Homo sapiens: one gene and its partner. The protein of the gene in region 1 purifies or fractionates together with the protein of each later gene. This does not show direct contact. Each region holds a gene or a part of one and is shown on either strand. Other genes may lie near its edges. The genes, in order: DYRK2 and XPNPEP3.

What was found.
Region 2: the proteins of DYRK2 (region 1) and XPNPEP3 purify together in Homo sapiens (affinity purification with mass spectrometry; 2 studies listed by BioGRID and IntAct, with this or other methods). This does not show direct contact.

The regions. Positions count from the first base shown.
Region 1 is NC_000012.12:67,648,812-67,664,155, reverse strand, and holds part of DYRK2 (dual specificity tyrosine-phosphorylation-regulated kinase 2), read right to left. Parts: 5' UTR 15,023-15,344; coding exon 14,974-15,022; intron 14,360-14,973; coding exon 14,211-14,359; exon of another isoform or gene 13,362-14,210; intron 7,051-13,361; coding exon 5,443-7,050; 3' UTR 1-5,442. UniProt on the Homo sapiens protein: Serine/threonine-protein kinase involved in the regulation of the mitotic cell cycle, cell proliferation, apoptosis, organization of the cytoskeleton and neurite outgrowth. Functions in part via its role in ubiquitin-dependent proteasomal protein degradation.
Region 2 is NC_000022.11:40,918,236-40,933,579, forward strand, and holds the end of XPNPEP3 (xaa-Pro aminopeptidase 3), read left to right. Parts: intron 1-4,097; coding exon 4,098-4,278; intron 4,279-6,126; coding exon 6,127-6,247; intron 6,248-8,033; coding exon 8,034-8,200; 3' UTR 8,201-14,580; downstream 14,581-15,344. UniProt on the Homo sapiens protein: Catalyzes the removal of a penultimate prolyl residue from the N-termini of peptides, such as Leu-Pro-Ala. Also shows low activity towards peptides with Ala or Ser at the P1 position.

The DNA of each region.
Region 1 (15,344 bases):
TAATTTTCTTATGTATGTGCAACACACTGGCAGTCATTTTTCATTTTGGACAGTGCTAAGTATTACTAATGACAAGGGTTTATCTGCCTAATAACCCAAAGGAAATCAAGTGTAATTCAAACTTAAGAAAAAAAAAGAAAGCCACATATACCTTCCTCAAATCCCTCTTAATGCTCTTTTCAAAACATGAAGCAGTCAAATCAATTTCCCCTTCTAACAGACCAACACTAATGTCAACTAGGGACATTTTCTAGAGCTAGTTTGAAGACAACTTCGAAGTTCCAAGAATATTTATTTGTGTAGCTGTTCATTCCAAAAGGGATAGGACTGTAGAGACTCAAACAGAATTGCACATTGATCAATTTTAAAAAGCGCTTTTGAAAGATCTGATAAAAGGAAAGAGAATGAGTAGGAACTATAATCTCCTGAGTCAGTCAGTCAGATCTGGACAAGAAATTTTAAATTGACATTGCCACTTTAGCACCAATTTTCAATTTTGTACATAATGCACATCTCTTAACACTTACATTTCTAAATATATTGGATTTTGGGGTTAGTTTGCTGATTGGGTTTTTTGCACTGGGTGTGAACTTTAAGAAGCAAGATTAGCAGTAACAAAAATCTATGGCCCAGGCTATGACGAGGCAATTGGGAACTCTTATGGCATTCCCTTGTTTAAGCATATCCCAGTATTGATGCAGGGAGCCACACTAAGTAATTCCTTGGCTGTTGGTAACAGAAGGGAAATAAATAATGATGTGAGGTAGTTCTTTCCACAAGAGGGTAATATCTGACTACACAATATCCCTGCAATGTCTGACGAATTACTAGAGCATCTGCTTGCTGTCATCTGTAAGTAAACTCTTAGCTTGGTACTAACTGAACTTGACAAATCATGAGCTAATTGCAGTTCCTAGGCCTTATTTTCTGAGCCAACCGAGGCAGGAGACACTACAACACAAAAAAATGTGAACCACAGAGACCACCAAGTACAAAAACTGCAAACTCATAAGCATTAAAAAACATTGGGTGGAACTGGTTAGAGCACATTAGAATAATTTACCAGAACTTGTGCAGAGAAAAGAATGAAGACTGGTGGGGAATAATTGACAGGTTCTGCTCCCCCAGCTTAACTATCATTGTGAAGGTTAAAATAAAAGAAGATATGAAGCTCTAGCATAATAAAGAACACAGCAGAGGCTATATATAAAAAAGTTAACATAAAAATCTGACAGGTGAAGGAATAGAATATCCTGGGAAAAGCAAGAACTACTTACTAAAACCTTTGTTTTTCCACTTGGAATCTGCATACTTATATTGAACTAATAAAGTATTGCTATGAACAAACTAGTAGAATGAATTATTTTAACTTCTCAAGACCCTGATATAGAGCTATCCATTTTGCATTCTAAACCCTCTCCAGGCTAATTGACAAAGGATAATACCAGAAATAGATCAGGAGTTAAATTATAGTTAGAAAGGGGAGAGAAGTAAGGTAGGACATTAAAATTTTATTCTGAAATTATCTCTGGCCACAACAATAAAATTTAACAGATATTCACTAAACAGTCTTACTCCTGTCATCAGCTGTATAATACATACAGTATCATAGAACTGGCCACTAGGATTAAAATCCACTAGAACATATTTAATGTTAAGTGGCGACAGCAGCATCTCACAGAAATTTTTACATACATATATACACAGTCCACATTCAACCATTTTCACATATTTTCAGTACACACAGTTGCAGCATATTACAGTCACGTGTCTAAGTTGTTGCTCGATAAAAACCCAAGCCACTGCCTAGACAGAACTGTAGCAGTTGAGCTGAGTATAATTACAATTAATTTTATGTATGTCCATAGCAGAGAGATGTACAAGCCCCTAAGAAACAGAGTTCACAAATACTTTTTTTAATGCTATTACAGCATTATGTTGGGCAATATTAAAACCTTTACCGAGACCAGATCAGTTTTTTTAAAAAGTCTTCTGCTTACCAGAAATATTTTTGATGAAAAAAATTACAAAAATGAATGCTCTCCTTAAAATAATTCACACTTTAGGATTCCAATATGGCCCAATGCTACTGATGCCTAAAGTGTTTTCTAACATTCTGATGGAGTCATTTAACACGACCCCAAACCACCCATTAAGTTTAAAAGTGGCTTAAGTGCCTTGCACCCAAATTGTAAAAATCCCTGGCCATCCTTACTAGAGCCAGGCACATATAAAAGGAATGCACTTTGGTTCATACCAAATGCCCTGGGATTAATCACACTATAAAATTAAATGGTTTGAGGTAAATTTTTACAAATACAGTTGATTTTTGTCTAGTGTTAGCATAACAAAAAAAAAATGTAAAAATCAGTCTGATGTTAAGATACAACAAAGACCATCTTTAACCCCTTAAATATAGGAAGTCCTTGTGTAACACTACCTGATGGTTATCTTTTTTCAGTGCCTGAAGATGAGTCATGCCTTATGGTTTCTATTAAGGCCTGTAACTAGATATTTAAGACAGATGTATCTTTGCAGAGATGGGTTCCATTCTTACTGACTAGAATTCGAAGAGTTAAAGAGGCCAAAAAATGCATGCCCTACAACATGGCATTCAGAACAAAAGGCACATTGTTAACACTAAGGGCACAATTTCTCCTCTACCGTTAATCTACAGTGTCTTGCACCACTCTGTTGTTCCACTGCTGTAGCAATATATTTAAGTGGTAATGAACACGCTGGTGGTGCAAGAAACAGAGCCAAATGAGACTGCCAAAGACAAGACAACACTGTGCTATTCCTAGATCTGAAAACAGCTCAGACATCCCCAAACAATGGTAACCTGTGAGACCAAAAACTGTTTCCAAGCCAACTCCTAATAGCCTATCAGAGCCTTCATTAATTTATGTTTTAAAATCACAAAGATGCAACATTTTTCTTTTTTTGACATGACAATCAAACTAGAATTTTATTAAAGCAGCTCTATTACTAAATGCTGAGATGTGGCAGCTCTTGTGAATAAAAAAATTTCACTGTATTTGGAGGGAAAAAAAAAAAAGCCCTACAGTGCTGCACATTATTATAGTTTGGTATAAAAGTTTCCGGTTTCCATTTATAAATAAAGATAGTCTCAAATTCATTGCTGGCATCTTAAGAACCAGTTTTGTGCGGTGGGGGAAAGACAAGCAGTATTAGTCCATTTATAAATGTTCACATGTATCGTCATTTTATAGGGAAATTAATAATGGCAGGCTCAGGTTTGTATATTTAAATGTAAATGTGAAGATAACTGGAAATGGAAGAGGAGCATTAGAAGAGCAAAACAGCATTATATGTTTTTATTGATTTAATGACCTAAAGAAGCTAACCATCATTAAGAGGCTGGTGGTCTTACAAAGCCACCAAACCAAGTCTTATACTTCTCATGCCTTTAAGCCAAAATCTAATATACAGATCTTTAAATTCTATAAGCCATTGATTGGGAGTATTGTCACATGAGCATTATTTAAAATGTAACTTACTAACATATTATTGCACTTCCACAGATTACACAGAAATGTGTATAATATGCTAAAAAATTTGACTAAGGGAAAAGAAGCTATAATTTCTAAACACAGAAGTACAAATTAATTTATCAGTGACACCTTAAATAGTAAAGCAAATATCACTATTTTAATAAGGTAACCTTATTACTGGTTTTTTGGCAAATATCTGAAATATTTCCTGAGCATTTTTTTCCACCATCAACCAACGAAGCCTAAATTAAAGTGTTTTTTTCAAACCTTTTTTTTTTTCTTAAGATAAACTGTAGGATTATTATTAAAGAACTTAACCGGAAACTTTCTTGGCCTCACTGGGGACCACGCTTTTAAGTACTTGTAAATCAATTTACAGGTAATACAATAATCTCTGTGCATATATAAGCTTACTTATCCTAATCTGTACTACCCAAAACCTATTGTCCAAACAGGCAGAAATCTTTCTATATTAAATTGCACATACTAAAAAATTTTTTTCACGTGCCTTGAAATTGATATAGATCATTGCTCATACATTAGTGATAAAATACTGAAATTTTCACTGTGAAAATAATTATTATTCAGAGAAGAAAATATTCTTTTACCAAACTCTCAGTTACTTTGCCAGATAAAGTGTCATTCCCACAAAAACAATCAGTGCAATCCAAAAGAAAGTAAAATAAAATAGAGGAATGCTATCTCTGGGGTTCTTCTAATGATACGAAGAATAAGTCAAACCATTTAACTTGAGGTTGAACTTTTCCTCCTCTAAACGTGTTGTTAACATTGGCCTTACTGAACAGCCAAAGTGACTTCTGTTCGTCCAGAGGATTTTCAACCCTCTTTCTTTTTAAAGAAAGAGTTGATAGTTTCCCAGGCTGAGAGAACCTTACAGTGGCACCTGAAAAGTGTGAACTCACTCTAATCTGCTAAATCTTCTTTGGAACTATGGAAATCCCCACCTTAAGTAGCTAGGCTGCTGTTCTTTTTTTAATTGGAATATGAAACAATGGTCATAATCACAGCTGAAATGTCTCTTTTCTGTATTAACAGTCTGGGATACACAGCTGAAGGAAGAAGACAAACTAAATGCAAGCAACAGACGTGTGGTATTAAAAGAGGAACAGAGAGGAGAAAAGCAGAGAAAAGGGAGGAACAGTTCATGGAATACAATTCTAAATTTAGGTGCAAAAGCAACTCTGTAATATGAGGCTTCTTTACAAAACAGCTCACCGATCATACTAGAAAATTTGGAGGAACACACACGTTTCCATTCCCATTTATCCACTAAAAGCTGCTTTGCCGGCTTTTAGAATGTCAGAATGCTAACTGGGCAGTTTAAACCTTGGGGATCTTATTTTGTATTTGTTTGAGCACTAGAGGAAAATCTCTAAGGTACAGTTTTTCTTAGAATGTCACTTTGATTCTGACCGTTCTCCTCCCACTACCCCCAACACCCAGATTAATTTATGAAAAACGGAAGCAGGACATGCTACACCTGTGCATGGACCTGGAGCATGGAGGGAAAAGGAGGGCCTTAAGGGGCTGTCACCCTGGGGAGGATATAACATGAACCATAAAAACATAGTGAATGTCTTTGACACCAATCTGTAAATGCGTGGCAGTCATGAAGTAATCAGTGGCCTGCCACTGATGTTATTATTCTGCCACACTAAATACAGTAAGGCTCATTGTACTTTTAGAACACAAAAAGTTTCTGAAAGTATAAAAACTTAAAGCATTGTCCTCATGTATTTTATAAAAACAAAATGAACAACTTTCTTACATTAAAATTAAGTGCTGAAAAGATACAAATGAGTAGAGTTATTGAGCAAATAAAAACAGGTCTGAGCTACTCCTTTTCAACCCAGTAAGGCTCAGCAATGTCGTATCTTTCAGGTTACCAGCATCAGGGGACGTGAGCTCAGCTAACAAGTTTTGGCAACACTGTCCTCTGCTGAATATTCCCATTGGCATCTGTCATCTGCGCCAAATTAGTCCTCAGTTTGGAAGCTGAGCTAGAAGGTGGAGGTAACTTGGATATAGATGTGATAGCACCGGTGCTCTCAGTTATCCTTTTCACTGACGTTTTCTCCCCGGTGGGAGGCTTTGGCAACCGCCTCCTCAGCCAGGGGTGCCGCAAAGCCTGGCCTGGGGTCATGCGCACTGCAGGATCCCACTCTAAACACTGTTTTAAGAAGTCAAGGAAAAGGGGATCATCACACCCCTTCAGCGCGTTCCCCCACTCTCTGCTCTCCGGTGGGCCCCTCAGTTTCCCCCTCCGGGAACGGCCTCCGTTTAGGACCACAGAGCCATCTGAGAGAGTCGTGACAGTGCAGTAACGGGGATAACCCTTGGAGCTCACAAAATTTTTGGCTCGTTTGGATGCATCCAGCAGTTTCTGTGAGGGCATGCCCAACAGTTCAATCATACAGGCCAGCTGGTCCCCTTCATCTTCCCCAGGCAAGAGGGGGTAACCCGTCAGGAGCTCTGCTAAAATGCAGCCCAGGCTCCACATATCAATGGGCATGCCATACCTGGCCCCAAGGATCACTTCTGGAGCCCGGTAAAAACGCGACTGGATGTACGTGTAGACACGCTGATGCTCGTAACAACTGGAGCCAAAATCAATTACTTTAATACCGCTTCTACCCTGCTGCTTTAACAAAATGTTCTCGGGCTTAAGGTCACAGTGAATTATTCTGTTTTTGTGCAAAGCATCCAAGCACTGCAGAATCGAGTGGGCAAACTTGCGAACCAAAGGCAGACTGAAGCCCTGGAATTTATTCTTCTTGATGAGCTCATAGAGGTTCATGCTCAGCAGCTCAAACGTCATGCAGATGTGGTTGCGGAAGGTGAAATTCTCCAGCATATGGATGACATTCATTGTGTTATCCTTGTCCTGCTTCCGCAGGTGTTCCAGGATTCGGATCTCCTCCGCTGCTTGCCGGTGGAAGCGCTTCTCATTCCGCACCATCTTTAGGGCCACGTGCTGGTGGACTTTGTGATCGTAGGCCTTGACCACCTGCCCAAAGCTCCCCTTCCCAATGACCTTGAGGACCTCATACCTGTAAGCCACGTGATCGTGGGGCACCTGCACATATGATCCCTGGTCATCATCATAGCCACCATTGTTGGGCCCACCTGTCATGCCCTGGCGCTTCTTAGCATTTAGACCCAAGAAATATATTTCAGGGTAGCTGAAAATCTCATGGTGTTCGAAGGCTGTGAGTTTTTGCATGTATTGCTTCATTGCTTGTTCAGGTGTCATGGGGGTGGCTTTCACCTTCCCCATGCCTTCCATGGACTTTAGAGAGGTGGAGCTCCCCTGCCGTCTATGAATGCTGTCCAGCTGCCGCTCTGGCACCACTGGCAAGCCCGTTTTGCCCACTGTTGTAAGCCCATTTGGTTGTGTCGTGAGCACTGTCCGCTTGTTACTGTTATCCTCAAACAACTGTTGAACCTGGATCTGTCCGTGAGCGTGGCTGCCGACATGCAGGTGATCATTCATTGTGTGCTTACTGCCGCCAATCTGGAATTCAGACAGGAAATATAAATAGAAAAGAAGTGGTGTCTGTTCAAATGGTGTATAAGTAACCCCCAACAACACCACCGCCCCCAACCTCACATTTACAAAATCCCATTTGGTTTGAGTAAAAGCCACAAAACATGTGATCCTGAAAAATGGACCTCATAAATGCCATGCCTAACAGACAAGATGGTTTGCTGTACATATTCAGGGTTCCCCACGGAGACAGAGACCTTAACTTTATCATTCTATATCTAACACTTAGTATAGGGCCTGGCACATCATAGGTGTTCCACTCAATCCACATTTGATACAAAAATGAAACAGGATACAGAAAAAAACATGCACACATAAGACTCTATGTTGGCTCCTCCACCCCCAGATCACAGCACCTTTCATATTTCATCTAGTAGTTTATTAACATGAAGACAGGGACCATGTCTGTCTTGTTCACTACTCTTTCCCTAATACCTAGAGCTCTATCCTGAAAACACTTCATCACCAGTATTTCCCCTTTCCTTGAAAATCTGATGAAACCTAAGTGCACACATGATCCAGTGACAAAAACAAAAACCCTGTGTTTTTAGACTTGAAAGATTCCCATGTAGATGTGTACCATAGTATCTTATGGACCCCTGACCTATTTTTAAAAGTTTCCAGGCTTTACTAACTGTAATAACCATTTAAGGCATTCAGCCCAACAAACCAAGCAACGACCACACTGTTTGGCCTTCCTCCGGAGGGGTCAGTGGCTCAGCTCTCTGAAGATGTCCATTTCTACAAGCTGCTGGGATACTCAGATTTCCAAATAGGAATCCAAAGAAGCAACCTCTGTTTCAGGTATGCATGCCATCCCTGAACATTCCTGTCTAAATTCTATCAATGGTGTGAACCAAGGGACCCCAGCCCTCTACTGAGAATCTTCTTGGGATTTCCTTTAAGCATTATGGCTGCTGAGAGGTAAGGGGTAGGAGAGGACTGGCAGCCAGGATCCTCTCCCAGTTAGGAATTCCTGCCTTGGACAACCCCTAGTCTTAAAGCAGCCTGGCAGGTGATTTCTGTATGAAATCTTACACCACCTTGTCATCACAATCCACCTCATTCAGTCAACTGGTATTAACAGGAGGCTGGCTGCCAAAGTGACAGAGTCCCTGCCCTCCAGGAACTTACAATTAACTAGATGAAGTCCACTGCCATCAGTATTTTTTCTACTATCCCCTTTTAAATCCTACCTTTGGGGCTTTACATACTACTGAAAGAGCAGAAGGGCTCTGTATATGTAACACAGTAATTCAAAACATGATTTGGGAACACCTGGATTACAAAATGAAATTCCAACTCCTTCTTACTAGCAGACCAAGACGTTCACATTTTCTTTATTGGATACATAATATGCACAATGACTATGTGGAGTGTGAGCTTCCTCTCTGCCCACTTCTAACTAAAACAAAACAGAAGACAATACTTGGGGCCTGTCTGACTGTGACTTCATAGGCTCAGGGATATCATTTCTTAGACTTATAACTGAGCTTTTTTATCACACTCATAGATGATACTCCATGCTAGGTGACCTTATATTCAATAAGAGTAGCTAGAAAGGTTATTTTACCCTTGTTCTATGCCAAAAGCAGGGCAGTCCATAAAAATGAATCAGGCAAGTCTTGGGCATATATAAAAGAGGTACAGGCTTGTCCAATGCTTCTCTTCCCCAGCCTCGCTCTCTGCACCCTCTCCTGTCCACTGTGGTCTTTCAAACACCAGACAATAAAGGGGCCTGAATCAAAATATCTCTCTCCTATAGAATCATTTTCTTTAGAGTGGAGTGGTGATATTTCAGCAGAAAAATTCACATTACCTGTATACATGCTATAAAAAGCATAAAGCTCTTCATTAGGACAAAATTAACCTTGGGGCTTTAGAGATTTCTAAAAACACAGCAAAGTAAAACCAAGCCTCAGAAATTTACTTCAAGCAATTTTTGTGTTTCGCATAATTTAATACATGATCACAAATGTTTTAGTAACTAAAACTAACGAGACTGACAAGAAACGACCATCTTCTATATCTCCAACTGCCTTCTCTTGGTCTCCTTTGCAGCATCAACTACTACCTAACCTTAGGTGGATTCAAGAGTTCCCCAGGGTTCAAATCTCGATTCTCTTGGCTTCTTACTCCCATAACCCCCTGCAACTGATCCTGAACACAGCCAGGGCTTCAGCAACTGCCCATGGCCTGATGTTTGCGCATTTGTTCCCTGAGCTCAGACCTTCCAAGGTGCTATCTCCTGAGTGGAAGACACACATATCCAACTATCGATCAGCTCCCTCTCCCATAAGCAACTCAAACTTAACTCATGATTTTTCTAACAAACCAGTTTCCCACTTCCATAATCCTCCATTTTTGATAAAAAGAAGGCTTCCCCTCCATGTGTCACTCAGGCTATCCACCTGCGAATGAATCCTCAGCACTGTGTGCCTGGAAAATCTCAACACCTCCCTCACCTTCCCAAGTCACCAAGAAGATGCATCATTACTATCCCAGGCCCTTTCCATCAACACTGCCTCATCTCACTCTCCTGATGTCTTTCACTGGGACAACTGAGGCAGCATCGTAACATGCCCCCTTGCTTCTAAGTCTAGAATTCCTCAAATCTCTTCTCCATAGTGCTTCTAGAGTCTGATTTAAAAGTCTCAACCTGAGACCACTCTTGCTTTTGCCCAAGGCCTGTGGCTGTAACCTATTTCCATAGCTAATGCAAGAACTTACCAGTAAGAACACAAGGCTCTAAAATGTAGAGGCTAAATGATCGGAGTCCTTCCATTCTCATCAACTACTGTCACTCTTCTCTCCAAGAGAACAAAGCTAGATAGCCCAGGACCCAAAAAACACCACACACTTTTACACTCCTCTGCTTTTAGTGAGGTCAGGTTTCATAATGGTAGATTTTCAGTTAGACACACATTAAATGATCCAGCTCCACCATTTACTAAATGTGTGACCCAGGGCAACTTATTTCATCTCTGTTAACCTCAGTGCCCTTGTCTGCAAAAAGAAGGTAACAAAGTTACCTCATTAGGGCTTTTAGGGGGATTAAATAAGGTAATATGTGTAAAGTGCTTAGTAGTCAGTCAATGAGAGCATTATTATTGTCCTTTCCAGATATTTCTTGTAATCTCCTTTCTCATACCTAGGTGATTCACCCTTTTACTTATTTCTCTTTATTGCAATTGTTTTAACATCAGATGTACTCATCTGGCTGTGAGCAATTCCAGGGCTGGGTCCCCTCTTATGTTTCCAAGTCCTCATTAACATAAACCCAGGCATATAGTAAGCCCTCAATAAATATCTTTGGGATGGAAGAACACATGCCAATAGATCCTCCTTGTTAACTCTTGCCTCTCTTGGAGTTGTTCCTGAGAACTACATTGTGTACCTTCATAAGGAAACATGAAGTCAAGGCCCAGGGAATTAAGAAACGTCCCTGGTGACCTAAGTCACAAGACGTTAGGCTTGCAGTGGATCCGCACAGACTTGGAGGCCAAGGACCTCCAAGCATAAAGTACCTGTAGCAGACACATCAATCAAACCATGTATAAAACACTTGCAACAAACACATCAACCAAACACCTAAAAGCAACACATGCAATCTTAAAAGCTTTCCAGATGTTAGAGATTCATTTGAGAAGCTCTAGCAAAAGAAGACTTTGAATCTCAAACATTGCAGGACTCTAAAATCACAATCAAGCTCAAAAGCACAATTAACTGACTTATAAAAAATGGGGCAGAGAGCAGGGTGGGGGTGCTGAGGGACTAGAAATGCCAGAACATTTCCAGAATACGTATGTCAAGACTACATCATAAACTTAAGGATACTAAAAACCTCTCCCTCCAGCTCAGCCTCTTGAAGTCTGAGATCATGGCTTATTCCGATATGCCAATGTATAGCACAGTGTGTGTCACATTTAAAAATACATACTGAGGCCGGGCACAGGGGCTCAATCCTGTAATCCCAGCACTTTGGGAGGCTGAGGCAGGTGGATCATTTGAGGTCAGGAGTTCATAACCAACCTGGCCAACATGGTGAAACCCCATCTCTACTAAAAATACAAAAATTAGCCAGGCATGGTGGCGGGTGCCTGTAATCCCAGCTACTTGGGTGGCTAAGGCAAGAGAATCGCTTGAACCCCGGAGGCGGAGGTTGCAGTGAGCCGAGATGGAGCCACTGCACTCCAGCCTGGGCAACAGAGTGAGACTCCGTCTCAAAAAAACAAAACAAAACAAAACAAAAAATAAAAACATAATACAATTGTTAAAATAGCTACAATTTATGGGTTCGAATTGAGAGACCTGCAAAGGCTTCTTTGATCATCAAGTACTTTGGTATTAAATATTATATAAAAACAATAGTCTAACCAGTTTGGTAGTTTTCATTTCTTCCAATAAGAAAATGGCAAACAGCAGATATTCCACTGTGATAATAGTCTTGGGCGTTTAAAAACTTTTCTGAAGTCATCTTAGAAATGCTGTATAGTATTATGGTAATAGAATTGAGTCCAAAAAGACTGGAATTTTAGCTCCTCCTCAAACATTCTGACAGTCTGTGTGGCCCTGTCAGAAAGAAAAATGTCTACTTTTTCTTCTTCAAAATACTGCCATTTTTTAAAATGTGTATTTCAATTTGAATTATTTTATAAAGGTAAAACTGATAACTGGAGTGTTTTACATAGTAAAACAGTTACAAAAGTTATACATATTTTAATATTTTTGAATTTAAAAATACTTCTATTAATAACTACCAATTAACATTAATAGAAAAATAATAGGAAGTAAGACAGTGATTGGGCACACTTCTCTCTCTCACACAAACAGAAATAACTAAAGTGTAAAACAACTTATACATGGAGATATAAAACAAAAGGGCAATGGTCTAGATAAATTCCAAAGTTTATAATCTTTATAATCATATATTTAACCTGCCTACTATATCACCTGTAAGAGAAAATGTGGGCAAGCTCCTATGACAAGATCATTTTTATCTCCTTAATGCCCTCCCGCCCCCCATTCATTCTAGAAGTTCTTCCTAGGTGTAATTACTCTGGAAATAATAACTAAAAATTTATAAAAATCTGACAGACATATGGGAATATGGATCTACAAAGGTTCTTGCATTTATAATGAGGCTAGTACAATTTCCTAGAATTAGCAGTCTCCATCAGTATATTAAAACTAGATGCAGGAGGATGTAGGCTTTCACTCTGGCCTTGATATGAACTGGCTGGGGAATCTTGATGAAACCAGTTACCTTGTCTGAGTCTGTTTCCTCATCTATAAATTGAAAGAATAGAACCAGATAAACTCTGTGGTCCTTGTAACCTTTCCTGTACTATGAAATCTGCTATGTTATAGAAATAAAATCAAAACTAAACCACCATCGAAACCCAAATTCACACCTTCAAAGTCAAGCATCTAATAATTAACAGCATACCGAAGTTTACACACACGTTAAAAACAAGTAAATCTGGCATATGCCACAGCAAAATACAGGCCTCCATTATGAGGAGTACTGAGAAGCACATTCGCATCCTTCCTTTTCTGGTGCACCACAGGCTCTCCCTCCAGTGGAGACTTGTCGTTTCATCTACTTTCATTACATGTATTTCAATTGCAAAGAGGCTCTGATCAAGCAAAGCCCATCCTTACAAAATTGGAATCCACATGCAAACCAAATAGTTCTTTTTCCAGCTCACACCATGTCATGTGATTACATCAACACATAGCAAAAAACTGGGTATTATATTTTCCAAATTGTCAGATGATCCCAAACAAAAAAATCCAAACCCCTAAAATCAATGGCAGTCCCTTAAATATCACTGTGACAAGAACACTTAACAGTAATATACAGAATCATCCATCCTACTATACCATCCACAGTCCAACACAGGTTAGTTAACCTCTGTGCAATGAATTCCCAGCCCCTGGGACCAGATGTGTCAGGATAGAGAGACAGACAGAGGGAGGGGGAAGATAGTAACAGCAACAAAACATTTTCCTACGAAACTTGCACACATCTCTCCAAGTCTAACAGGTGCAACTACAGTCTAGACATCCCCTCACAGTTCTCTGACAAACAAGTTTCCCCATAACATATGTCCCCAGAGCTACTCCCCTGTAGACCGGAGATGGCCTTTTCTTCAAGAACTCAACTTTCACTTAGCAAATAAAACCAATCCCTAGCAAGCCTCCCTCACACAGAACCATCTTAGGCTGTTCCTGTGGAAAATCCAATTGGGAAAAAAAGACCTCCAAACCATCACCTCCTCCAAGTGCAGACCTCCTCCAGGCTGGCCATCACCATCCAAGGGTGATCCCTGGGAGCTGAGAAAAGGTACATGCTTTAGTCGAATCCAGCTTGCCAGTCTCCGCAGCCACCAGCAACCAGTCCCACGCTGGCCTCTCCCCTCCCAGAGACCACAGCACCTGTTAGGTGCTTTTTCTTTCCCACCTCCAAAGCAACGCTTGCCCTTTCCTTTTGAATAATGTCCAACTGCAGAATCCTACAGGGGTGGCTTGTTTTGACTGCTGCGGCGGCCCTTATTTTTGTTAATGTTGATTACAATTTCTGCTGTGCTCAAACCTGTAGCACTCATAAAACATGCTTACACACGCGGGGGACAATTGGCGATGCTCCCTGCTGGCTGGAGCCAGGCCTGGGAGGCTCTTTGGGGGATCGATTTTCCGGGCAGGCCGGTCTGGCTGTCCCCTAACACGTATCTGTTTCTATAAATACCCACTACCCACGGGGAGGTGGGGGAAGGACAGAGATGTTTACCGGGTCAGGGAAGGGAACTCTGGGATGCAAGGACGAAAAATGAGGAAAGAAGGAAAGCAGCAAGGAGGAAGTTCCTAGGAAGAGGAGGTCATGGGTGGGCGAGCTCTGGAGGGGAAGTAAGGGGCCCACGCCACGAATCTTCCTTTGTGGCTGCAGCTTTGGGCTCGCCCAACTTAACCAGGGCGGCGTCGACGAGAGACCATCGGCCCGAGGCGTGGGGCTGCTTGTATCTCGACCCCTCTTCTCCCGGCGTCAGACCCCTCCAAGTCCGGGTGCTTCGGCCTGGGGCCCCTCCCGCCCCCACCGCCCGGGCCGCCCGCGGGCTGGGTCTCACCGTGTGGGCTGCGGCGGCAGCGTTGCTGGCCCGGAGAGGCGGCAGGGCGATGGGGGAGGGCGGGCCAGTCCCCACTCCGCTCCGGGTGGCCCCTGCACCGAGCCCCGGGGAAGCCTGAAGCTGACGAACGGCGCTGTCCCCACCTCGGCCTGGAAGCCACGTGCGGGAGGAGACAAAAGAGGGTCAGGGGGGAGAAAGTCACCCAGACCCCCCCTCCAACCCCGCTGGGCAGCGACAACCCTCTTCCAAAGAAAGACGGAGGAAGAGACCGGGGCAGTAAAAACGGGCGTTCGGGTCACGGCTCCCCAGCGCACACCCACGGGCGGGGCGCGGGCAGCTGCAAAGTTAAGTGGGGCCCTGGCGCGCGAGTTCGCGACCCGGCGGGGGAGCCGGGCCGCGCCGGGGCTAGGCGGCCCACGTTGCAGACGGCCAGCAGCCGGGAGGTGGGTTTGGACAGCTGAGCAGGGAGCCACGGCCACGCCAAGCCCCGGGCAGCGCAGGGCGGGGCGGCAGGCCTGGACGGTCCCCGCCCGGGCCCCCGGCAGGCAGAAGCCTCTTCGGGCCGAGGGCTCCCCGCGGAGGGGCCTTCGGGGCCGCGCACAACCCTGCATGGAGCCCGGGGCGCGTCGTCCGCCCGGGGGCTCCCCCGCGCCGCGCCGCCGACTTTGTTCGAGGTCCCGCAGGCAGCGGCCGCCCGCGCCACAGGGGCTGCCCAGGGCCGGCGGGGGTCCGGGGATGCGGCGCGGCGGCACGGCCTCCTTACCGGTCGGGTAGGCGGCGGGAGCGGCGGCCGAAGGTTTCCTGGTTAACATGGCCGCTGGAGAGGAAAATGCATTTCAGGGCTGCCGTCGCCGCCGCCGGTCCTGCTGCTACTTCTGGCGGCCGCCGCCGCCGCCTCCCGGCCGCCCCTCGCGCGGGTCCCCGGCGCCTCGTCGCCGCCTCGCGTCTGCTACAGCCAGACACACACAGTCCACTGCATCCCCTCGGCCGGGGCCCGCCGCCGCGAGCCCCCCGCTCTCCTCCTCGCCGCCGTCCTCCTCTTCCTCGGGCGGCTGCAGCACCCTCCGGCCCGTGCACATGCCTCGCCCTCCCCTGCGCGCCGCGGGCCTCCCCGTCTCCCTCACATAGGGGCGC
Region 2 (15,344 bases), on another chromosome or scaffold:
TGGTGGCGCACACCTGTAATCCCAGCTACTTAGGATGCTGAGGTGGCAAAATCACTTGACCCCTGAAATTTTTGGTTACGGTGAACTATGATCACATCACTGTGCTCTAGCCTAGGTAACAGAGCAAGGCCCTGTCTCCAAAATAAAAAAGTTAGGCCAGGTGCAGTGGCTCACGCCTGTAATCCCAGCACTTTGGGAGGCCAAGGCAGGTGGATCACCTGAGGTCAGGAGTTTGAGACCAGCCTAGCCAACATGGTGAAACCCTGTCTCTACTAAAAACACACACACACACACAGAAATCAGCTGGGCATGGTGGTGGGTGCCTGCAGTCCCAGCTACTCAGGTGGCTGAGGTAGGAGAATCACTTGAACCCGGGAGGTGGAGGTCGCAGTGAGCCGAGATCACACCACTGTACTCCAGCCTGGGCAACAGAACGAGACTCCATCTCAAAAAAAAAAGTTAGGACGAGGGATATTTGTTGGTAAGATTGTCATTATTCTGGGACCTATAGAAGGGTATTCTGGGATAGTCTGCCAAGTTTTGGTGGGTTTTTTTTTTGTTGTTGTTGTTGTTTTATCTGACTGGTATTCACCTTATAATAATTTTTTTTTCTTTTTTTTTTTTTGAGACACAGTCTTGCTCTGTCGCCCAGGCTGGAGTGCAGTGGCGCAATCTTGGCTCACTGCAACCTCCGGCTCCCAGGTTCAAGCAGTTCTCCTGCCTCAGCCTCCCAAGTAGCTGGGACTACAGGCAGATGCCACCCCGCCTGGCTAATTTTTGTATTTTTAATACAGCCACTGAATAATTTCTTAAGGTTTATGTTTGATTGATTTGTTTGGCTTTTTATATCTGTGTTTTGTTTTACAATTAAAAATTTTTTAAATTTTTAAATGACAATTTTAAAGCTGAAAAGTACATTAACTGAAACAGGAAATTCACCAGGTAGACTTAACTGTAGATTGGAGACAGCAGAAGTTTGCAAACTTGAAGATAAATAGAAATTATCCAGCTGGAAGAATAGAAGTACATTGTAAAAAGGCCAGGTGCAGTGGCTCACACCTGTAATCCCAGCACTTTGGGAGGCCAAGGCGAGTGGATCACTTGAGGTCATGAGTTCGAGACCAGTCTAACCAACATGGTGAAACCCCGTCCATACTAAAATAACAAAAATTAGCTGGGTGTGGTGGCAGGTGCCTGTAATCTCAGCTACTTGGTTGGCTGAGGCAGAGAGCGATCCTCACATCTCAACCTCCCAAGTAGCTGGGATTATAGGCACGTGCCACCATGCCTGGCTAATATTTTGTTTTTTTGTAGAGACACGGTTTCGCTATGTTGCCCAGGCTGGTCTGCAACTCCTGGGCTCAAACGATTCTCTTGCCTTGGCCTGCCAAAACACTGGAATTACAGGCATGAGCCACTATGCCCAGCCAAATTCTAGGTATTTAAGAGAAATGAAAACATTTCTCAACAAAAAGGGTTGCACAAGGACATTCATAACAGCATTTATTCACAATAGTATAACAACCAAAATGTCCATCAACAGGAGAATGAATATGCAAATTGTGGTCTGTTCATACAATGGAATACCACTCAGTAATAAAAAAGAACATTTTAATTACTGATCGAATGTTTTTTGTTACTGATTGAAGCACCACCATGGATGTACTGCATAGACAACCTTCTACCCTCACTGAGCATAGATTATGTTCAGTGAAGGAAGCCAGACACAAAAGAGTATATATTATATGATTCCATTTATATGATGTTCTAGATTTGGCAAACTAAGGTCAAAATAATCACAATAGCATTTGCCTCGGAAAGTAGGGATATTGATTAGAAATGGACATGTGGGCCAGGCGTGGTGACTCATGCCTGTAATCCTAGGACTTTGGGAGGCCAAGGTAGGTGGATCACCTGAGGTCAGGAGTTCAAGACCAGCCTGGCCAACATGGCAGAAACCCATCTCTACTCAAAATACAAAAATTAGCTGGGCGTGGTGGTGGGCGCCTATAATCCCAGCTACTTGGGAGGCCGAGGCAGGAGAATCGCTTGAACCCGGTGGGGGCAGAGGTTGCAGTGAGCCGAGATCGCACCACTTCACTCCAGCCTGGGTGAAAGAGCGAAACTCCATCTCAAAAAAAGAAAAAAAGAAATGAACATGAGGAGGCTTTCAGGGGAGATGGAAATGGTCTGTATAAGGCTTGAGTCCAAAATCTATAGGGCAGACTTCAGTCCAAACTCAGGCAGGGTTTATATTATAGTCTTGAGGCAGAATTCCTTCTCCAGTATACCAAAGCAGTTGTGGCATTTGTGTTTATGTATTGTGGGTTACCTTTTGGTTTGTGTTTCAGCCAGCTAGGCAACAAACTGTTAGAACTTTTCTGACCCCTTCAGCGGCAACGTTGAATCCAGAGTCTCTGATTAGTGGACCCATATCAGTAAAGTTGCCTGATGCAACTGTGTTCCTTCTACCATTATCCCACACCATAAATATTCATTCCCACCCACATTCCCAGATTTTTGTCTTTCGGAAATTGGAAACCTCATGCAGTTCTTTTTTTGTTTTGTTTTTTTGAGACGGAGTTTCACTCTTGTTGCCCAGGCTGGAGTGCAATGGCGCAATCTCGGCTCACCACAACCTTCGCCTCCCAGTTTCAAGCGATTCTTCTGCCTCAGCCTCCCGAGTAGCTGGAATTACAGACATGCACCACCATGCCCAGCTGATTTTGTATTTTTAGTAGAGATGGGATTTCTCCATGTTGGTCAGGCTGGTCTCGAACTCCCGACCTCAGGTGATCCACCCGCCTCGGCCTCCCAAAGTGTTGGGATTACAGGCGTGAGCCACCGCGCCCAGCCCCTCATGCAGTTCTTTTTGGTGTGGAGTGGACCTCCTCATGGGTCAAGCTTTCTGCCTAACTTGGAGCCTGCTGGGACTTGAGTGTAGTTACAATTCTAGTAGAACCAAGGCAACTGCCTCAAGGGACATACCTACAAGTTTTCAGGCAAAACAGGGTTAACCTTCTCAGACGGGGGTGGAAGGGCCACTTCTGCTGGCAACGAAGACTCAGCAGAATTTAGGAGTTCATTGTTCCCAGCTTCAATAGGTTTGGTACATGAATTTGTCAAAATTGTACCGTTCAAATGTATGCATTTTAGTGTATATAAAGACACTTTGGGAGGCCAAGGCAGGAGGATCGTTTGAGCTGAAGAGTTCCAGACCAACCTGGGCAACATAGTGAGACCTTGTCTCTAAAAAAAAAAAAAAAAAAAACTATTACAAAAATGATTATTTAGTAATACTGTGGTGGGCTGGGGTATGGGTACATTATGCTGTGGGTTTCTTATGCTATTATAGTTAAGCATTCTTCTATTAGGGGACATTTAGAGTTTGTCTAATAATTTACAATTATAAAATTACAGCGAACATTTTAGTACATTCAGCTTTTTTGAATTTCAAATATTTTCTTTGGATATATTAGAGTAGAATTATAAGCTCTAGTTATATGAGCATCTTTAAGGCCTTTGATGTAATTGGCTGTATTAATTTATACTCCTATCAACAGTATGTGAGAATACATATCATGTATCATCCCAGGTCACTTTTTTATCTCGTAATTGCTAAAGAAACTGTTATTCTAAAGACACTTAAGTGCTAGTACATTACTAGTAGCCCAGATGTTGACTAGTTTATCCCATGGTATCTGCTTCACCTGTCAGAAGTGGGTCCCTAGGCTTTCTTGCCTTTTTTTTTAATGGTAGTCTATGCTGTAAGGGATTAAACAGGATCATGGCTGAGCCTCATCTGCCCACTGACTGCACTCATGGCTCAGTGCTTCTTTTGGCCCTACTTCATGTCTCTCCTGACCATTTGAAGAAGAGACTGTGTTGCTGCTCCAGCTTGAAGGATTGTTGCCCTTCCTACTGAGCACCTAGGACATGATTGAGCTCCTGGCCATATTGATAGATTGGTACTTATTAAACATCAACAGTGCCCCAGCAACAGCAGCATCTTGGGGTTTTTCTAATCAAACTTAGTAGCAAACTTCTTAGAATATCAGATTATCTAAGTTCAGGTTCTTTGGTTTTCCCGTCCCCAGGTTCACCGCACCTCAGGCAGAACTCTATGAAGCCGTTCTAGAGATCCAAAGAGATTGTTTGGCCCTCTGCTTCCCTGGGACAAGCTTGGAGAACATCTACAGCATGATGCTGACCCTGATAGGACAGAAGCTTAAAGACTTGGGGATCATGAAGAACATTAAGGAAAATAATGCCTTCAAGGTACTTCACTTCTCTTGACCCCAGTTCTCAAGAACACCTAGCATGCTGCTAGGTTTTTACCCTATATAAAGCTAATTAGACTTAGAAATGGGACAGATGTAGTGATTCATGCCTGTAATCCCAGTAGTTTAGGAGGCTGAGGCAGGAGGATTGCTTGAAGCCAGCCTGGGCAACATAGCAAGACCCATCTATATACATGTAGATATATACACACACACACACACACACACACATATATATATACACACACATACGTAGATATATATACATACACACACAGGGTTTTTTAAGTAAAAAGAAAAGATTTAGAAATCATCTTTGTGATCTATAAAAGGGATTTAGCTTTAACATGGATTAAAACAAAGGAAGTCAGTACTTATTTCTTCCAGAAGATGGCAGCACATGCTGATTCATTACATGCTGCATAACTAGCTCAGTATTCAGAAAACTTAAAATGAAGTCTGGTGCCGACAGGGTGAAAAAGGAAACAAGAAATGAGGAGAAGCCTGGGAAACATAGCAAGACCCTATCTCTACAAAAAATTTAAAAGTTAGCCAGGTGTGGTGGCACACACCTCTAGTCTCAGCTACTTGGGAGGTTGAGGTGGGAGGATCACTTGACCCCAGAAGTTCAACGCTGCAGTGAGCTATGTTCGCACCACTGCACTCCAACCCGGGCCACAGAACAAGGCCCTGTGTCTAAAAAAAAAAAAAAGAGAGAGAGATTAACTTTTAATCCTTTTATGGGTTATTCTGTAGGTCAAAGGAGAAGGTATTTGTTGTTTAAGTGACATTTTTGACACTTCAGCAATATTCCCAAAGACCATGTCATTAGTGAATTTTTTTTCTGCATCCAAAATGTGATGGTGTTCAGTAAAAACGTAAAACCTCAGCTTTAAAATTAAGATACTAGATGCCTAAGTCAGATAGACCATTAGGCATCTCCTACCTACAAGTTAAGCCTTCTAGGACTTCTGTTATCAGTAAAAATGAAGCTATAAATTGGCTGTTGCTTGGGCCAACAAATCTTTAACTAACTGACGGAAATATCCAAGCTGGCTGGGCACAGTGGCTCACACCTGTAATCCCAGCACTTTAGGAGGCTGAGGCAGGCGGATCACATGAGGTCAGGAGTTCGAGACCAACCTGGCCAACATGGTAAAACCCTGTCTCTACTAAAAATACAAAAATTAGCCAGGCATGGTGGTACATGACTATAATCCCGGCTATTTGGGAGGCTGAGGTGGGAGAATAGCTTGAACCCAGGAGACAGAGTTTGCAGTGAGCCAAGATCACACCACTGCACTCCAGCCTGGGCAGCAGAGCAAGACTCCATCTCAAAAAAAAAGAAAGAAATACCCAAGCTGGTAGGTGCCCAAAAGTGTGCCTTCTCCACAAGTTGCTGTGAGCTATTTAGGGTCTCCAGAGTAGATTCCTGAGAGGGATGTGTGAACGAACATTGGAAAGAGAACTGTGATAATAGTCATCCTCTCTTTCCCAAGAAAAGAGATTTTTTTTTCTTTCTTTTATTTTTATCTTTCCTGTGGTACTGAAGAAAAGAGACTTTCATTTGCCACAGTCATTAGTTGGAATTACTCAAGTCTGCATGTATGTAGTATATTAAATAGCGGGAATGGAAATGTGGATTGATGAGAATGCCATTGGCAGAATTGCATGTAAGAGGTCGCAGTTTTTCAGGTGCCTTTAAGTATTAGCCCAAGGAGGGATTAAACTGAAGTGGCAGAACCATGGGGGAGATAATAACACATATCTCACTGATTTATACTTGCCCAGCATTCCCTGTAAGAGGTCATTGCTCTAATGATACTGTGACAATTATCTTTTCCAGGCTGCTCGAAAATACTGTCCTCATCATGTTGGCCACTACCTCGGGATGGATGTCCATGACACTCCAGACATGCCCCGTTCCCTCCCTCTGCAGCCTGGGATGGTAATCACAATTGAGCCCGGTAAGGAGAGGTGTTACAATAGTAGTATGAGGTAAATGTTTGTTTGTTTGTTTGTTTTTGAGATGGAGTTTTGCTCTTTCGCCCAGGCTGGAGTGAAGTGGTGTGATCTTCACTCACTGCAACCTCCGCCCCCCAGGTTCAGCAATTCTCCTGCCTCAACCTCCTGAGTATCTGGGATTACAGGTGTCGGCCACCACGCCTGGCTAATTTTTATATTTTTAGTAGAGACGGGGTTTCGCCATGTTGGCCAGGCTGGTCTCGAACTCCTGACCTCAGGTGATCCACCTATCTCAGTCTCCCAAAGTGCTAGGATTATACGTGAGCTACCGCGCCCAGCCACATTGTTTATTTTTACCTCAACCAATGTAATTAAGTTAGAAGAGACAGGAAAAAAAGTCCAGTGTGGAAGGTAATTTTATTTTCGATTTATCTTTTGTATTCTTATTTAATATCACACAATTTGTTCAGTTTGACTCCTCCAATAAACAACAGATGGGGAATACTTCCTATAAGTAGATATTAAGAAATGAATCTTTTTTAATCCTGCCTTTCCCAGGGCCAGTTTGTACTGGTCTCCCATTTAGTAGTGGGGGGCTGCTCAAGCTTCCAAAGCCCCCGGTGCTTGTGTGCAGAGAGACAGGCAGACACACTATGCTCTCAGTTTCAACACCTCTGCAAGCTGCATTGAGCTACCCAGCACCATCCCACTCCTTAGTATCCATCGCCTTCCTCATAAGCTTCAGAGAAAGCTAACAATCGGATACGTTACCTAACTTGAATGGTCCTGGGTGTTGGGCAGGATTCTGAAGAGAAGCAGTGACCACAATGGTGTGTGAAGATTGATGTTGTCAGAGTTGATGGTTAAATACTGATGCTGGTTTTGTTTTGAAAACAGATCTAAATTTTAGATTTCAAGTATTTTAATCTCTGTATAAATTATGGCTGTGAAATGTCTTTTATGCCACCCTTTGAACCTAGTCATACATTGCTATCTGTGGCCATAGATATATCATTTAGTTCAATCTGTTTGGTACATGGGCGCTTCCTTAGACTGCGCTACATTTTCCTTTGCTGATCTTTCTTTTTCAATCGCAGAGCAGTATCTGTGAGGATAGTGGAGGAAGTTTACAACTTGTTTAATATAAAAAGCCCTGGTATGTGTCTAACTTCATGATTAGAAAGGGTACCTGGGGTTCCTACATTTTTCCAAATGTACATTAAAGTCTTTCAGTTTCTCTTGTATTTTATATTACACACATCAGATATATTTAAATCTTATAATGACTGTCTCTGCAGCTTCCAGTTGTCAAGGCTAATAATCTCTAAATGTTTCTTTGAATACAGTTTAAATATATTTTGTCTTTATTTTTGCAAGGTGCTCTTTTTCCAAGGGACTCTTAGGCAGGGGAAGAATGCACTTACATAATCTGCTTGTCCCCCACATATATTGACGTACTTTTAAATTAAGTAACTTTATTGGCCTGCTTGAGCCACTAGAATATGACAGAATCATGATCAGCATTGCCGTAGTTGTATTTAGCTTGTAGTCCAATATAAAGATAACCACAATAATAATTTTAGTAATGATACCAACATGTGTTGACCATTATATGCCAGCCACTTTGACATGTATTATCTCATTTAATCCTCACAGCTTTACTAGGTAGGTACCATAAAGATCCAGTATTACAGAGGAAGGAATTTTAACCCAGAGGTTAACTTACTTGCCCCAAACCACCCAGTTACTATCATTCCTGAACAGCATGTTCTTCTTTCTACTTCACAGGCATTTATATTCCAGAGGATGACAAAGATGCCCCAGAGAAGTTTCGGGGTCTTGGTGTACGAATTGAGGATGATGTAGTGGTGACTCAGGACTCACCTCTCATCCTTTCTGCAGACTGTCCCAAAGAGATGAATGACATTGAACAGATATGCAGCCAGGCTTCTTGACCTTCACTGCGGCCCACATGCACCTCAGGTTCAAAATGGGTGTCTTCTGGCAGCCCTGCACGTGTGCTTTCTGAGTGTCTCTGTGTGTGCATTAATATATGCATTCCATTTGGGAGCATAGCAGCTGTGTGAATGTATGTAATTGTGTGTGGGGGGTTTTTTGTTTTAAGTAGTTAGAAGTCTGGGAAAATGAATTTTTGAATAGTATGTTACTGCAGCTTTGGTAACATTAATTCTATAGAATTAATGATCAGAGCAAGTTTAATTTTTAAACATAAAGGTCTTGGTTACACATGTCCATGCATTCCAGTTAACACATTTAAACATATAGAAAATTCACTTCTTCTTTCAAGTCCTTCCCTTTCTATACTTTTGCTGAGATCAACCCAATATCATAAGAAGTTTGTGTGATGCCTGTATTTTTAGCTAATTACCAAGGTCTCTGCCTATGCAAAAATTCATCTTTCGGTGATTGTGGGCGGCCAATACATACCTTCTGTAACTCCTCCCTACCTATTCTAGATCCTGCATATCTACTGGAGCCATATGAGCCCTCAGGGGCACTGGTGTCCTGCAGTCTTACTAGTCAGCCACAGTCCAGGTTCCAGCAACACTAGCTACCTACCAAACAAAACACTTCTGAGCTTTTCTTGCCATTTGGTTGCCTGGGACCTGGAAAGTGTTTAGATTCTTGATAAAGATGGAAATGGAAGAGAAAGAAAATTATATATGTATATACTAAAGATCCAGACATCAGGGCTGGGCACAGCGGTTCCGCCTGTAATCCCAGCACTTTGGGAGGTCCAGGCAGGTGGATCTCTTGAGACCAGGAGGTCAAGACCAGCCTGGCCAACGTGGTGAAACACTGTCTCTACTAAAAATACAAAAATGAGCTGGGTGTGATGATACATGCCTGTAATCCTGGCTACTTGGGAGGCTGAGGCATGAGAATTGCTTGAACCTGGGAGGTGGAGGTTGCAGTGAGCTGAGCTCATGCGACTGCACTCCAGCCTGGGTGACTGAGCAAGACTCTGCCTCAAAAAAACAAATAAATAAATAAAATCCTGACATCCTGCCATCTTTTCTCTTCAATTTAAAGTTGATTTCTTAATGATGACTTCAAAAATTAATAAAAAGAAAAGAAAAAAATGATTTCTGGCCGGGCGTGGTGGCTCAAGCCTGTAATCCCAGCACTTTGGGAGGCCGAGGTGGGCGGATCACGAGGTCAGGAGATTGAGACCTCCTGGCTAACACGGTGAAACCCCGTCTTTACTAAAAATACAAAAAAAATTAGCTGGGCGTGGTGGCGGATGCCTGTAGTCCCAGCTACTCAGGAGGCTGAGGCAGGAGAATGGCGTGAACCCAGAAGGCAGAGCTTGCAGTGAGCCAAGATCGCGCCACTGCACTCCAGCCTGGGTGACAGAGCGAGACTCCGTCTCAAAAAAAAAAAAAAAAAAGAAAAAAAAAAGAAAGATTTCTTTCGCAGATATCCCTGCTCCCTCTATAGATTCTTAATGCACTGACCCTCACAGGTTACCCTTTTAGCTGTTGTGCTGCGCAGGAGCAGATCCTCTACTTACGTACCCTGTCAGAGTCACAGTAGTAGCGCCCAGTTTTCAGAGAAGTACCCCTGTTATCATTCTGTGATTTCCTCTAGTGCTAATAGAAACAAAATATGGAATCTACCAAGTACCCGTAAATATCCTATGATTCTTATCTTTCTTTGATACTAGCACTGGGAGTGCAGTGGTAAAGAGTCATACTTCTTTTTTTTTTTTTTTTTTGGAGACAGAGTCTCGCTCTGTCGCCTGGGCTGGATGGAGTGCAGTGGCGTAATCTCAGCTCACTACAACCTCCACCACCTGGGTTCAGGCAATTCTCCTGCCTCAGCCTCCCAAGTAACTGGGACTACAGGTGCACGCTGCCATGCCCAGCTAATTTTTTGTATTTTAGTAGAGACAGGGTTTCACCCTGTTGCCCAGGCCGGTCTCAAACTCCTGAGCTCCGGCAATCCGCCCACCTCAGCCTCCCAAAGTGCTAGGATTACAGGCATGAGCCACTGCGCCCGGTGTAAGAGTCATATTTTTTTAAACACAAACATTGGATACAATTATACAGCAACTCAGTTTGCAAGATGAACAGGGCTAGATTACCACAGATAGCTTATTTAGGAGCGTCTGTGATAGAGGGAAGCTTTAAGAACCAGTGTGTTCACCTCCTTTAAACCTGGATATGAGGTCAAGATGTATAAAACATGCCAATTGTTAGAACACAAATTTGAGGGTTTCTTAAAAAAACAATTTGTATTAGGGAAGCACAAGCTAGGGGATTAACAATCTCTGTAATGCTGGAAGTTTGCCTATCTTATCAGGGAAACCCAGGGTACAGAGTGAAAAGCAGACAGGCAGTGACTTCCTCAAGAGACAGATAATGTGAAAACAAAAGTGATACAAATCATATCCTGACAGTGCTAGCCTAGGAATGCCTGGCTTTGCGCACCTTATCTAAGCAGCTCTCAGAATGGAGGCTGCACAGCTGGAGTCTCCATCCCCCATACCCACCTTCCCACCTCCCTCCAATTTCTCAATCCAGAGCTTTTTAAAAAAAGGGGAGGGAAATAACTCCACAGCTCTGGCTGCTCACTTCCCAGGCTCTGTGCCCCCAACAGCCCTTTCCTTGGATTGTGTTTCCTTTGTTCATTTGTAATCCAGGAATAAGGAATTTCCTTTTCTTCTTGTATCATTTTCTTTTCTTTTCTTTTTTTTTTTTTTTTTGAGACGGAGTCTCACACTGTCACCGGGGCTGGTGTGCAATAGCGAGACCTCAGCTCCCTGCAACCTCCATCTCCCAGGTTCAAGCGATTCTCCTGCCTCAGCCTCCCGAATAGCTAGGAATACAGGCGCCTGCCACCACACCCGGCTATTTTTTTGTATTTTAAATAGAGACGAGGTTTCACTGTGTTGGCCAGGCTGGTCTCGAACTCCTGACCTCATGATCTGCCCGCCTCGGCCTCCCTAAGTGCTGCGATTACAGACGTGAGCCACCGCACCTCCTGTATCATTTTCTATGGTCTAAACTTTTCTAGCTAAAAGCCTAGGTAGCTTGTATGTATAGCAGCATACTTGGACATGAAACACACTTCTGGTTAGATTCCAGTCAAGTTCTATAGGTGTTATTGGTAGGCAGAAAGGCTGTTGTAGAATTCTTCTGGTGATTTTCAGTCCCTGACCCAGGTATATTGTCCTTTGAGTCCCAGATTAACTAACTATAGCAGCTAAGCATTTGAATCAGACTTCTCATAGCAATGTTATGGGCTGTCTGATATATTCAGGATTTGTTGAGCAGATAAGCTGTGTGTGATCTTACTCATTCTCAGCCATGCCGCAGACATACCCATTTCCCTTTAGTAATTTTTTAATACAGAGAATGCTATTAACTGTTACTGGATATCAAATAATTTTATTTTTCTAATAGTATTTTCCAAATATTTCTTAAAATTCTTAAAATTTAGGTTAAAGTTTGCTGGTCTCTTACATTTAATAAAGCTGGGACTTGAAGACTTACCATAGTTTTCAACTGCCTTTGCAAGTTCATAAACTTCTAAGGGTAAAAAGTGAATAAGATAAATTCAGAGTTTTAAGGTAAAGGCTTTATATTAGCTTTTTTTTTTTTTAAAGGTTTTTTGTGGGGTTTTTTTGTTTTTTTTTTTTTTGAGATGGAGTCTCGCTCTGTCACCCAGGCTGGAGTGCAGTGGCACGATCTTGGCTCACTGCAACCTCCATCTCCCGGGTTCAGGCAATTCTTCTGCCTCAGCCTCCTGAGTAGCTGGGACTACAGGCGCGTGCCACCATGCCCGGCTAGTTTATTGTATTTTTAGTAGAGATGGGGTTTTACTGTGTTAGCCAGGATGGTCTCAATCTCCTGACCTCATAATCTGCCCACCTCAGCCTCCCAAAGTGCTGGGATTACAGGCGTGAGCCACTGCACCCAGCCTTTTTAAAGTTTTTAATTGACATATAATTGTACGTATTTACAGGGTAAATAATGATGTTTTGATACATATATAATGATCAGATCAGAACAATTAGCATATCCATCACATTGAACATTTATCATTTATTTGTGTTGAGCCTTTAGTTCTTTTTTTTTTTTGAGATAGAGTCTCACTCTGTCACCCAGGCTGGAGTACAGTGGTGTGATCTTGGCTCACTGCAACCTCCACCCACCGGCTTCAACCAATTCTCCTGCCTCAGCCTCCCTAGTAACTGGGATTACAGGCACCTGCCACCACACCCAATTTTTGTATTTTTAGTAGAGACGGGGTTTCACCATCTTGGCCAGGCCAGGCTGGTCTTGATCTCCTGACCTTGTGATCCACCCACCTCAGCTTCCCAAACTGCTGGGATTACAGGCATGAGCCACGGCCCCCAGCCAGAGACAGTCTTGCTTTGTCGCCAGGCTGGAGTGTAGTGGCGCCATCTTGGCTCACTGCAACCTCCAACTCCCTGGTTCAAGCAGTTCTCCTGCCTCAGCCTCCCAAGTAGCTGGGATTACAGGCACGCACCACCATGCCCAGCTAATTTTTGTATTTTTAGTAGAGACAGGGTTTCACCATGTTGGCCAGGATGGTCTTGATCTCCTGACCTCGTGATCTGCCCACTTTGGCCTCCCAAAGTGCTGGGATTACAGGTGTGAGCCACCGTGCCCAGCCGAGCCTTTAGTTCTAAGTATAATAAATAATATATATACCAGGCATTCCTATTAAAAATCTTAACTTAAAAAAAATTACTCAAATGTTACTACTGGAATTTTTCTCCCTGAATTGAAGATACATGGTTAGATCATTAACAATACCACCTAAATGAAGGAAACATATCTGGATATCCAGTGTCACATACTTTTATGTATTTATTTCAGGAATTACTATTTTGTCACCATAATTAGGAAACAGACTGTGTTCTTTATTTGAAACACAACAGTATAAATACTATAGTAAAGTTGGGTGCAGTGGATCACAGCTATAATCCCAGCACTTTGGGAGACCAAGGAGGGATGGTCACTTGAGCCCAGGAGTTTGAGACCAGCCTAGGCAACATAGAGAGACCTTGTCTCAACAAAAAAATTTAAAGTTAGCCAGGTGTGGTGGTTTGCACCTATAGTCCCAGCTACTCAGGAGGCTGAGGTGGGAGGATCGCTTGAGCTTAGGAGGTCAAGGCTGCAGTGAGCCATGATTGTGCCACTTCACCCTGGGCAACAGAGAAAGACCCTGTCTCAATAAAAAAGAAGAGAAAAACTGGAGTGAGAACTCTCCTCCTCTCATAATCATAGTATCCACGTTAGGAAAATGCTTCTGAGAGTAACTTAAAGTACTGTGTGTGCATCTTCCTTCAAAACCTTGCTTTTTTCTCCGTTTTTGTAAGGTGAGAAAGGGAAAAACCTTCACCGTAGAAATACTGTCTTGAGATTAAGATACAAATAAAACATGTTAAACCTCCATCTAAAGACATTGCAACTTATTAAAACAGAAAAATGTACCTTTGTTATGTCTTTCCAAATATCCACACCCACACCCTGTTCAGCTTTGTTAATAATACAGAGATCAGAAATGTGAAGCACAAATGCTGCTTCTCCCCCTCCTGTTCCCATGTCAGAGATGGAGAAGAAAGCACAGTGAGCTGTTCACCAGTCCAGCGGTGACCTCGGAGTCCTTTGTAACAGTGTTTCCAATAACTTCTGCCAATAAAACAGAATTTGAGTTAGAACCTATCTGCTGTCCCTCAACTAGTGTCTGATAGCTGAGAATGTAATTCGTTTGTGTGTCTATTAGAAAATTAGGCAGGCACCACAGACAGTAGCAACATAAAGGAACCTGCTTAGAAGAGGTTTTTATGGTGTGATTGTGTTTTTTTTTTTTTAATTTTTGTTTCCTGAAGTAGAATCCATAGCTCAAAACAAGTTTTAAGCCTGAGAAAATATAATTTGAGGTGTTTTTTATGCTCCTAATGAAAAGATGAATGAATGCATCATTAAACCTTAACAGTAGAGCAGAATTTCACTGTTACAAACCACATGGGTTCTCCTGGTTGTGCTGCTGTTCTCTACCTGTGTGTCACTGAGTTTGAGCATCATTATTGTTTGAATCAGAGGACCCACTGGAATCAAGGCTTCTTGGAATTGCGCAAGAATCTGAGAAAACTTCAATCTTTACCAGCATTTCTTAATGCTTTCCATGACTTTTGTGCAATTATATAAGTTCAGTTTAGACAAAATGCTGTTACTTTTTAAGGCATTACTAATAACTGAAAATAGTTACGTCATTGCCCATCAAGGGAAAAGCACTTGTAACTGTCATTTAAAAAAAATAAAACTATAAAACAATATAGAGGGGTATGGTGTGTGTGTGTTACTTTAGAATCTAGAGTTTACGGTCTATTTAGTATAAACAGTATAAACGTGAGACCATCTGGTTTTACAAAATAATTTACAAAGTATTCATTAGCTGCTGTCACAAAATCATGATAGCAAACTTGAAATGATTTTATCAGTCTTATAGAGGAAGAATCTGGTGGATTTGATCCAGCCTATTAAAAGGTTGGCACAAAACTGACTGAAAGGTCTCCAGAAAGTCCCCATAACACTCAAGACTGTAAACTGTAGCCATGCACATTTTATGAAGGATGAATTTTGTGGGGAAATAGGATCAAGTTGCAAAATTATGAATATTTGACCTTTGTCAACCATATAATGAATCGTAAGTGTAGCCATCTCTCTCTCCCTGTTAGGAACCATCTTTAAAATCTGAGACTGTCTATGAGGAGTACCTTTAACATTTCTCACGTTCTGGCAGGCACAAAAAGATACTTTGTATGGCACAATGGAACAAATTTGAGGGGGCTGAGTGGTAAGTACATATGACTTGTAGAAAAAAAATTATTATACATCCTTTAACTATGATAAGAAAAATATGTACAGTGAGCCACCATGGCTGACCAACAAACATGAAATTTCTTATAATGGGAATGGATTTCTAATCCAGTTGAAATATTTTATATCAAATATTTCAAAATAAGCTATAATTTGCAGCATATACATGTATTGTTAGAACAGTCACCCTGCTCACAGACTCCACTAAGAAGTACTTCAT